Regions from separate parts of the Homo sapiens genome. Here region 1 is linked to region 2. The links come from fine-mapping of genetic effects on gene expression. A gene starts in region 2. The other region holds a variant in brackets. All regions are shown on one strand. Distances are between the middles of the regions.

What was found. PIP is the estimated chance that this variant, and not a neighbour inherited with it, causes the effect. A credible set is the group of variants that fine-mapping cannot tell apart.
Region 1: its variant is the best candidate, but not a certain one, in a credible set for the expression of EMP1 in thyroid (GTEx, PIP 0.75).

What each region holds. Positions count from the first base shown.
Region 1 is chr12:13,129,851-13,135,234 of GRCh38, forward strand. No RefSeq gene overlaps it. Among named protein-coding and RNA genes, the nearest start is that of GSG1, 29 kb to the left of the region's middle. The variant G/C (reference allele first, on the strand shown) is at 2,899.
Region 2 is chr12:13,194,242-13,199,625 of GRCh38, forward strand. It overlaps EMP1 (epithelial membrane protein 1), which reads left to right and starts at 2,485. Exons shown (of 5, transcript NM_001423.3): 1 at 2,485-2,631. RefSeq lists an enhancer at 4,525-5,025.

The sequences.
Region 1 (5,384 bases), 64 kb before region 2:
TTTTGCTGTTTTGACTTTTATCACATAGCTTTTCACCTATCCATCCTTTTATTCATTTATCAATCCACCTTCTTTTTATGCATTTCAGAATAAGTTGCAGGTATCAGTATACTATTTCAGATTCTTATCAATAACAGAATTCAATATTTGTTTACAGTCCTTTTTATTTTTTATGGTAATGTTTACATACAGTAAAATGCACAAATCTTAAAGTTTAATTCAATGTAGGGGGCTTTATATATATATGTTAAGGGTAGTAATTGTCCCTTTTTATTTATATTGCAAGTATTTTCTTCAAATCTGGCACTTACCTTTTAACTTTGTTATCATATCCTTCACACACAGAACTGCAAAATTTACATAGTCAATCTGTCAATAATTTTCTTTATGGATTCTAGAGCTTGCATCACCCTTACGATGACTTCTCCCGTCCCAATATGATTTTAAAAATTCAATTTTTCAGTGTTCTGGTAGTTATATTTTTAATTTTAAAAATCCATATTAAATTATTTTTTGTGTAGGGAGTGATAAAACCTAACTTTTGCAATAACAAACCAGTTGTCCCAAAGCCAAAGACTCTTTTTAGATTTATCTGCTGTAGTCTTTGATGGATGATTTTCTCCAAAATTTAGAAGAAGTTGGAAGAGTGGAGGAAGAAAAGTCAGCAAGAAAGTAGGAGAAAGCAGTGCAGAGGGGATGGAGAGAAAATGAGATTTTGGAGTGAAGATTCTAAAAGTCTCACTAAATTTTTCTGCAACAATTGAACGAAGTTATTTTTTGCATAAAACTGTGAAAACGCAAGTTTTGTCTTCAACAATATCTCCCACATAATTTTATTTGACAGAATAATAAGGTGATTCAGAGCTTGGGAATTATATAAAAACCAGTTTCTGTATCTTTTTAGTGAAGACTTATCTGTGAAAGCATCGGAGTCAAGGTGTGCAATTTGTCAGATATCAACTGCAGCATTAGTGATTGATCAGTCTGGGGACATGTGAAAGGAGAGAGAGAGAAAGCAGCAGCCAAGAGCACAGCAGTCAGAGGGAGGGTCTGGCTACACTTTGCAGTTTCACTTTTGAGGTAGGGGACAAGGCAGCCTTTGGCAAGGGAGCATGACCTAGGGTCAGTGTTGCCATTTGAGAAACAAGGGAACAAAAGAAATATGGATATATAGTTCTTTCGAGAACACATCTAGACTATCTCATCCAGTCTTGGAAACGTTAGTGTTTTTTAGCAGACAATCAGTTGGAGTGAACCAGAGAAAGAGAAGAAAAAATTACTTGTAATGACGTGTTAAAAGGAATGCAAAAGAATTTTTGTCAATTGCACTGCACAGCACAAAAGCAAATTCTTTCTATTATTAACACAACATAAGGAAAGAAGAAGAAAGTGTCAATGTTTTACTACCATGATAAATACTTGCAGGGGTTCAAAGAACTATAAATAAGGGTTCACATGTGTCATGCTTTCTACAATACACTATTTATTCAGGATCTAATAAAAAGTGAATATTGTACAGCAGGTCCTTGAATAATGTCATTTCGTTCAATGTAGTTTTGTAATAATACTGATGAGGAAAAATAATCGCTTCCTGGCTGGGGCTGTTGTCTGTGTGGAGTTTACTCCTTCTCCCCTTGTCTGTGTGGATTTTCTCCAGGTATTCCAGTTTCCTTCCACACCCTGGAGCTGTGCACGTTAGGTGAATTGGTGTGTCTAGTTTGTCCATTCTGATTGTGTGTGTGTGAGTGTGTGAGTGAGTGTGCCCTGTGATGCAATGGTCTCCTGTCCAGGGTGGTTGCCTGCCTTGTGCCCTGAGAGGCTGGGAGAGGCTCTGGCCACCCATGGCACTGAACTGGAATAATTGGGTAAATAACTATCTTACTTGTTTTTATTAATCTTTCATAAATGTATGTATAACTCATTTTTATTTTATTTTATTTTTTTTGAGACAGGGTCTTGCTCTGTCGCTCAGGCTGCAGTGCAGTGCATGATTGTGGCTCACTGCAACCTCGACTCCCCGAGCTCAAGTGATTGTCTCACCTCAGTCTCCCAAGTAGCTGGGACCACAGGCACGCGCCACGACACCCAGCTAATTGTTTTGTATTTTTTGTAGAGACGGTGTTTTGCCATGTTGCCCAGGCTGTTCTCGAATTCCTGGACTCAAGCCATCTGTCCACCTTGGCCTCCCAAAGTGTTGGGATTACAGGCATGAGCCACCATGCCAGGTCCCCTTTTATTTGAGTGTTTACTATTATAATTGCTTTTGTCTTTATTTAAAAGTTTGGTGATGTTTTCGTGATCAGAAATATGCTGTAGGAATTTAACTCTGGTGTACATCAATTAGCCTATGTTCAAACTGATTTTGTTATATGTTGTTTTGCTTAAAGTCACAATTTCCAAGAAGCTATCAATGACGTTAAACAAGGACTTCCTGTACTATATGACCCAGCCATTCCACTTCTGAGTATTTACCTGAGAGAAATGAAAGGATAGATCCATATAGAGCCTAGTACATGAATGTCCATAGCAGCTGTGTGTGTGTAGTAGCTGTGTCTGAAATAGCCTAAATGTCCGTCAACAAGGGAATAGATATACCATTGTGGAATATCTGCATAATGGAATCTTGGTCAGCAATAAAAAGGAAGGAACTATGATACACCCAACAACATGAGTGAATCTCAAAATAATTATACTGAGTGAAGGAAGCCTGGCTGGGCGCGGTGGCTCATGCTTGTAATGCCAGCACTTTGGGAGGCAGAGGTGGGCGGATCACTTGAGGTCAGGAATTCGAGACCAGCCTGGCCAACATGGTGAAACCCTGTCTCTACTAAAAATACAAAAATTAGCCGGGCATGGTGGTGCATGCTTGTAATTCCAGCTACTCGCGGGAGGCTGAGA[G/C]AGGAGAATCACTTGAACTTGAGAGGGAGAAGTTGCAGTGAGCCGAGATCATGCCACTGCACTCCAGCCTGGGTGACAGAGACTCTGTCCCCCCAAAAAAAAATAAAAAAAAGAAGGAAGCCAGACAAAAGAGAGCACATGCTTCATGATTCTATTTCCCTAGAATTCTAGAAAATACAAACCATGGAGGAAGGGAGACAGTGAGCCCTAACAAAAGTGCACCAACAGTTTTAGGTGTAGTGGATATGTTCATTATCTTGACTATGTTGATGGTTGCATGGATGTCTACGTATGTCAGAATTGTTCAAATTGTATAGTTTAAACAGTGTATATTATTGTATGTCAATTATATCCCAATTAAGTTATTAAAAAAGATAATGTCAAAAGGTATCTATTCACTTTAAAAAACATGATCTTTTCTAAATGATTCAAAATTAAATGTTTTAAGCCAGCAAGATTTACTACTATGTTTAATCCACAATTTTATTTAGAAAAATTTAGTTAATCCATTTTTTTTTTTAAGATGAAGTCTTTCTCTGTCACCCAGGCTGGAGTGCAGTGGCACGAGCTTGGCTCACTGCAACCTCCGCCTCTTGGGTTCAAATAATTCTCCTGCCTCAGCCTCCTGAGTAGCTGGAACTACAGGTACATGCCACCATGCCTGGCTTATTTTTTGTATTTTGGTAGAGACGGGGTTTCACCATGTTGCCCAGACTGGTCTCAAACTCCTGAGCTCAGGCAATCCACCTGTCTCAGCTTCCCAAAGTGTCAGGATTATAGGCGTGTGCCATTGCGCCCGGCCCCCAAATATTTTTAGAATTAAAATTATTCAAAGAATTTTTCTTAGAGTTGAATGAATCTATGTTGGTCATCTATGAGAAGGAAAATCAGTCAGAAGGAAATAGAAGAGGTTTGTAAATGCATCTATTTGCCACGACACTCTTAGGCTTATAGAATTAACTCTCCAAAGGGAAATTATAGAAGCCTCATTGCCATAAAACCCAACTGTACAAAGACCTCAGCTAAGAACAGAGCTCAAAACTTAATAAACCCTTTCATCCAAAGATACAAGCTTTTCCAGATACCAATTAACAAAATCTTGTACCATGGTATGAGCAGAGGGGTACACTCATTGCTGTTTAACAGATATTGAATTGGAACCCCCAAGAGCTCAGACAACCTGTCTGAGGTCATCTGGCGAGGCAGCTCCTGACTCGGGGTGAAGCTTAAGAGTTCTGCCTTCTGGCCCTGCCCTGCCTGACTCCAACCAACAAAGAACTCTCTGGCCCTAAACCAGACCAAGTAGGGGGAAGAAAATTCATGGTTTAACCAGTTTGCATTGGAACCAATGTGGTGTTAGAGGCCACACCAAGGGTGGGAACCAGTGGGTCGAATTCTAAATCCATCTCATTTCTCTACTTTTTCCCTCCCTACTTTGGACCAGTCCATTGCTGTCTTCGTTGAACTCTTTGTGGCTTGACAGAATATATTATTGCATCCTTTTTGCATAAAGGAGAGATTCTTACAATTTCATTGGACTGTGGGACACTCAATCCTTCTAGATTGATTATGGTGATAAATTTGGAGACTCCTGGAACCTGGGAGGGAATTACTGTCAGATCCAAAGCAACAGCAAATGGAAGATTTACCAAATACTGGGAGAAGTTTACCCTGGACTTTTGAGGAATATTGTAGCCTTTAGATGTGTCAGGGGCTCCCCCTTGTCTGGACTGGGATTCCTGGTTGGCTTTGACTCCCAAGTGTGGAGGAACTGGTTAATTTAGATGTTGGATTCTATAATTAGAAGCAATCTTTTTCCTGGATGACATATGGTGAGATGTTCTAACCAATGTAGAAGGTGTCTATTATGCATTTCTTCTGCAGTTCTTACAGTAATATTTGACTTATTTGGCAATTATTCATACATGGCAGACACAGCCATCTGAAACACAGCTGAAACCAGCAGGATGCAAAAAAGGCCTTTGGGTGGCCAACATGGACATCAAAAAATCTTCGAACTATTCTGTATCTCTTCAACACTATTCACTTTTATTTCAGGCATGACCTAGTAAGCTTAATTATGATCTACAGCGGATTAGAACCAGCACATTAATGGGGCAGGGGGAAACTTTAGAAACAGAAGCTAGAAGTTAGCAGTTTTATGATGAGGGAGGAGACAGGAGAATTATAAAAGCACAAATAAGAATGCAGAAAATGTAATGATTTGAGGTAAGAGCAAACAGCTCTCCAGAACTCATGAGTCCAAGAGTTCATTATTTTTCTTCATCGAAGTTAAATATTAGAGGTTGTAATTATTTCTTTTACAAACATATATTGGAAGCCTGGATACTGTACCTGGCACTGGGTATGTAATGACAGACATGGTCCTGCCCTAATAGAAGGTAATAAATTATGTTGAGTAAACTTTAGAAAAACGGAGAATAATATATTTAGAAAGATTTCCATAACAATTAAAAATGTTTAAA
Region 2 (5,384 bases):
TTAATATTTTCTCTCCAAACCTAGACATCTCCAAAAGCACACAGGAAGGTGAGATTTATCAGACCCATTTGGAAGGTGATGCTGTCTACTCACTTTAAGGTGAAATGGAGGCAGGCAGATGCCTCGCTCACAGCCACTGCCAGGTAGTAGGCGTGGAAACTGGGCCTCCTGCTTTCTGGGTCCTGTTTTGAAGCCCGTCCCTGAGCCCAGCGTCTCTCTTTGTGAAATCCATGGAAATCCAGATAGACTGAAGGATTCCTCTACTCAAGTACTTTAAGAAAAGTTCCTGATTTTTCCCCTTGTTAAGCCCGAGAAGGAGGTGGGAGGGAGAATGCCTCCCCTCTGCTATTCCTTGGCTCCAGGTTTCTCTTTAAGAAATGCAATCAGACCACATACTCCTCAGCATCTGAGAACACTTCCTCTGGAGTCCAGTTCTCCTTTCCAGGCAGCTGAGGGAAGAGAGACTTTAAAACTGGCAGAGGGCATCAGGGGTGAAAGGCAACCCTGAGAGTAGGAAAAGGCCAGGGAGACAGGCCGATTCCAGCAGGGGAGACTGGCCCATCTGGAGCGCCAGCACATGCCTGGGGATTTCCTGGCCTCACCTGCAGACACCCTCCCCTCCCTGAGGGTTGGGATGCTCAGAGATCACAGGGACTCTCAACCCACTGCTGGGAGTGGCCCCTCTCAGACAGGCATTTTTATTATCAAATGAGCAATGAGAGAGGGGAGAGGTGAGGAACTCTATGAGAAACATGCAGTCTTTTATCACGTCATCAGTTTTCAGTGAGAAAATCCAGACCTTCTTACTTTTACAGAGATAGAATTCAGTTCTCAGGGACTTGTGAAGATGCAGCATCATCAAATCATTGTGTGTGTGTGTGTGTGTGTGTGTTGTGTTTTCCTTATCATCCACCTTAGAAAATATTCTCCACATTCCCATGTTAAAATATTTTTTCCTAAAATCCATCCATCCACATGCCAACATCCTAAAGACAGTAATATAGGTTCATTGCAGAGGATTTGGAAAATACAGAATTGTGACCAGAACAAACTAAACTGCATCCATAATTTTATCATCGAATTTGATCAACATTTTGGTGAATAGCCACCAGTCTGTTTTCTATCTTTTTAGGGAATATAAGTTCCAAGAGGCAGGGATGTCATTCACTTCTGTGACTCAGTGCTCTGAATCAGGCCCAGTGAAGACTGACGTGCAGCCTGTATTGGCAGAATGAATGAATAAATACTACACACGCATATTTTGAATTGAAATAAGTTGTCAGGGTGCAGCAGAGAATAACAGAAATAGAATTGCTTGGATGTGCTGACCTAGATCCAAGCTGCTACTGGTAACGTACTGTATCTCCTTGAATAAGTCACTTCACCTCTCTGGGCCTGAGCTGCTTCTTCAGTAAAATAATCCTTGTAGCTAAGATTTGTTGAGCGCTCACTATGCACACTGCCATGAGCCCCTATATGTGTATTTCTCATCATAGCTCTATGAGTTACATACCTGCCATCTCCATTTTATGCATGAGAAAATAGGCATGGAGAAGTTAAGTGGTTTGCCTAAAGTCACACAGCAAATTTGTGGAGAGCTGGGCTTGAACTCAGGCATCTGGGCTTTTACTCTCTCCAGTGGAATGCCTGGGCTGTGGGATGAGATGACTTCACAGGCCTCTCCCAGCTCCAGAGTTGAGAGAGAGAGAGGAGTGGTGCAGGGAGGTAGTAGGGATGATTATGCTACTGGCCAAGTTCAAGAAAGTCAATTGTAGAACAAGGTCCAGCTGATTATTACAGAGAGCAAAGTTCTTAACTAGAGGACTTCCTCCTGGAATGTGGAGAGTCCACACGGGCACTAGCAGAGCATAATGAAAGACCAGGAATTCTCTGCTGTTCAATCAGTGCTCCATCACTCAGAGGCAGGGCTGCAAGAGCTCCTAGTGTGTCCCCTTCGCCTTCAGGGCCTCCCTGTACAGCCACCCACAGGACAGTGCACCAGGGTCAGGCAGGGAAGTAAATAAAAAAAGGAATCTGATAATTCCTGACAGTGAGCAGCAGCTGATGCTTTTAATGGGGGAGGAAGACTGGGAATCTCGCTTGATGATGACCTAGGACTTCAGTCAGCAGGACACTGGCCCCTTTCCTCCCCCTCCCAGGCTGAAACCTTGTGTTTTGCCTTATGTCCATGGTAACCAAGTCTCCTTTTTGGTGAGGAGGAATGGGCTTCAGTAAACAGATCTATTTGTGTGATCCTGTTACTCATTTGAAGCAATGTCCCTCCTTTTTTCCACTGTGGTCTGTGTGTCTGAGTCAGAGAGAGCCTACAACAGGGTTCTTTGAATTGATGGCTCACTCCCAGCCACTCTTGACTGACTGCCAGCTTAGCAGGGCGTAGCTTACCAACAAATCTTTTTTTTTTTTTTAAAGCCAGACTGATTCATAGAAACTCCTTTAAAACACGGTGAAAAGAAACCGCCCATTACACACCCCAGTACACCAGCAGAGGAAACTTATAACCTCGGGAGGCAGGTCCTTCCCCTCAGTGCGGTCACATACTTCCAGAAGAGCGGACCAGGGCTGCTGCCAGCACCTGCCACTCAGAGCGCCTCTGTCGCTGGGACCCTTCAGGTAGGACAGCTCCCAACGCTGTGGGGACTCTCAGCAAAACTTCTCCTTCCTTTCCACGGCTCTGCTTCTTCTGACCTCATCTTAGTTTTGCTTTTTCTTTTCTTCCTTCGCTATTTTTCTATGATCCTCTAAGAACCAAGTCCTTGAAACTTTTGGCTCAAAGTGGATACAGAGACAACTTTTTCTAGAAAGTTCAGAAAAGTGTATTTTGAGGACGGAGTCTGGGGAAATCAATGGGATGGGGCTAAAATCGTGCCTGGCAGTGACCGGGTTCTTGTTCTAGGATGTGGAGGGAGCAGGGACTTTGAAACAAACTGGGATAGGATCCTGTTTATGGAGGAAACACCACACACCTTGGAAATGACATCGGGAACTGGCCAGATGTTTTTCACCTCCTCCGTTTTGATTCCGATTGCTTCAGGACTTGAACTGTTACTCTGCTCGCTGGTTGTTGGTTGGGATTTTTTGGGTGGTGGTGGATAGATAACTGGTTTTCAGTTTATTTTTGACATTGCTTTTCCTGCCTGTTTGCTTCCCTATTCACTTCTGTTTAAATTTAAGTATTTTTTTTCTCCTCACAGGATGGGAAGAGGGGGATTGGTTTGTTTAAAGAAAACTGTTGGCCGGGCACGGTGGCTCATGCCTGTAATCCTAGCACTTTGGGAGGCTGAGGCGGGCGGATCACCTGAGGTCAGGAGTTCAAGACAAGCCTGGCCAACATGGTGAAACCCTGTCTCTACTAAAATACAAAAAGTAGCCAGGCATGATGGCAGGTGCCTGTAATTCTAGCTACTTGGTAGGCTGAGACGGGAGAATTGCTTGAATCCGGGAGATGGTGGTTGCAGTGAACTGAGATTGCGCCACTACACTCCAGCCTGGGCAGCTGAGTGAGACTCTGTCTCAAAAAGGAAAAAAAAGAAAAAGAAAAAAAATGAAAAAAGAAAACTGTTAGAGAGAGAAAGAGAGGGAGGCAAATGGTGTTTTAAATGAAACGTGGGAGGGGTTCACTTGGTCGAAGCAGGAGCTGATGAGGATTCCAGATGCCTTCTCTTGGCCAGATGTGGAGGGCGGGGGAGGCAAAAGGGAAGCTGGGTTTGGAGAAGAGGGTGGGGCAGGAGAACTTCATCTGTGCCTGTTAAAAATTGTTGAGTGGCTTTGTGCTTTCACCCCAGAAAGAGCTGCCTTTCAGTGCTGAGTGAAAAGATGGCATACCAGAAACGATAAAAGAACTTTTAAAAGAAAGTGGATGTGGAATTTCTTTGCATGGAAGGCAGTGATTGTTTTGAAATGCTTATCTTTTCTCTTGTTCCCGAAATGTGATTGTATAAATGCAAACACTCATGCTAATCATGAAATCTGGAGGAATGAAGAAGGGTGCTTTTTCTTTTTTTTCTTTTTTTCTTTTTTTCGGTTAGCATTTTGGGTGAGTGTCTACCGAGGTGTGGCCCATTTCAACATAGACACTGGTATATTTTTTCCCCAAGTAAACAAGATGAGAATGACAGGATTCAGCTTGTCTGACAAAGTTAGGCTTTTCCTTTAGAAAGGCAGTACGTTGGGAGAGAAGTTACATGTAATCAACCCTGTGTTGAGCAGGCAATGCTCCTTGTAAAACTGCCCCAAGGGGGACGATTGAGTAGGCATCAGGGCAACTTTTCAAGATGAAGGGAACTCCTACATTTGCTTCACATGTTTATTATTTCCACATTACATGGATGTGGATTAGCCATTATTAAATCAATAGTGTTAATATCCTGTGAAAATTATACAAATCTTTTAGTTCTGTGCAGGTTAAAACTAATAACCAGTCAACACACGGAAAGCCCTGACAATGTTGGGAGTGTAAACCATCATGAACTGCATTATTTGTGGCAAGGTTTCACATGATACTGTAGGTTTATAAAGGAGAAAATATGCTACATGTTACTTCCTGGAGTTTGAAGACAATTTAGAAAAATACCGTTCTGATTCCTGCTCTCTGCTCTTCCTCCAAGAAGTAGTGAAAGAGTCCCTTAGCTGTGAGAGTTTTTCTGGATTTCAGCTTTGACAATCCCGAAATGTGAGGGTTATTTTTCCCCCCCACTCTGCCCGCTGCCTCCCACCCTCAGGGGCAGATCCAATTCCACCCAGACTCCGAAGAATGGGGCGGGGGCGGGGGCTGCAGGACATCCTGTCTGGCGCCCTGGTCAGAGGGCCCCCCACATTTACATTGTTTGTGGGTACTAAACTGTCTTGGGAGTTGGCAAAAGGCCATCAAGAACCAACTTGGAGCAAATCACATCCTTAGAATCTGGCTATCTCCCAGGACTGCTGGGCAGACCGCTGGGGAAAGGAAAGAGATCCCTTCTGTGGAGAGTGGAAAGGACTCACTGTGCCTTCCTCAGCCCTTCCTGCTTCCTCCAGAGACCAGATTAGGCCCATCAAGTTCCCAGCCTTGTCAGTGGGCTTCATGGAGACCCCTCACCCGGGAATGTAGACCCTCTTGGCTTGCTCTGGGTGGCTCTAGGGATTTCAGGTAGTGCCAGACCCACAGGGACTACTGGAGAGAGACACGTTGAAGACCGGGGAAAACTTGTGGATGAGGCAAGACTGCTTTTCTGTAGACTCTATGGAGCCTGGTGGGGCACATAACTGAAACGTGGACACAGGAAAGGGCAGGAGGCAAGTCAGTTCCATTTCATCCTTCATTTCGTTCACAGAATTCTAAATTTGGGAGGGATCTTGGATCTCATTCATTCTCCTACTGTATGCAG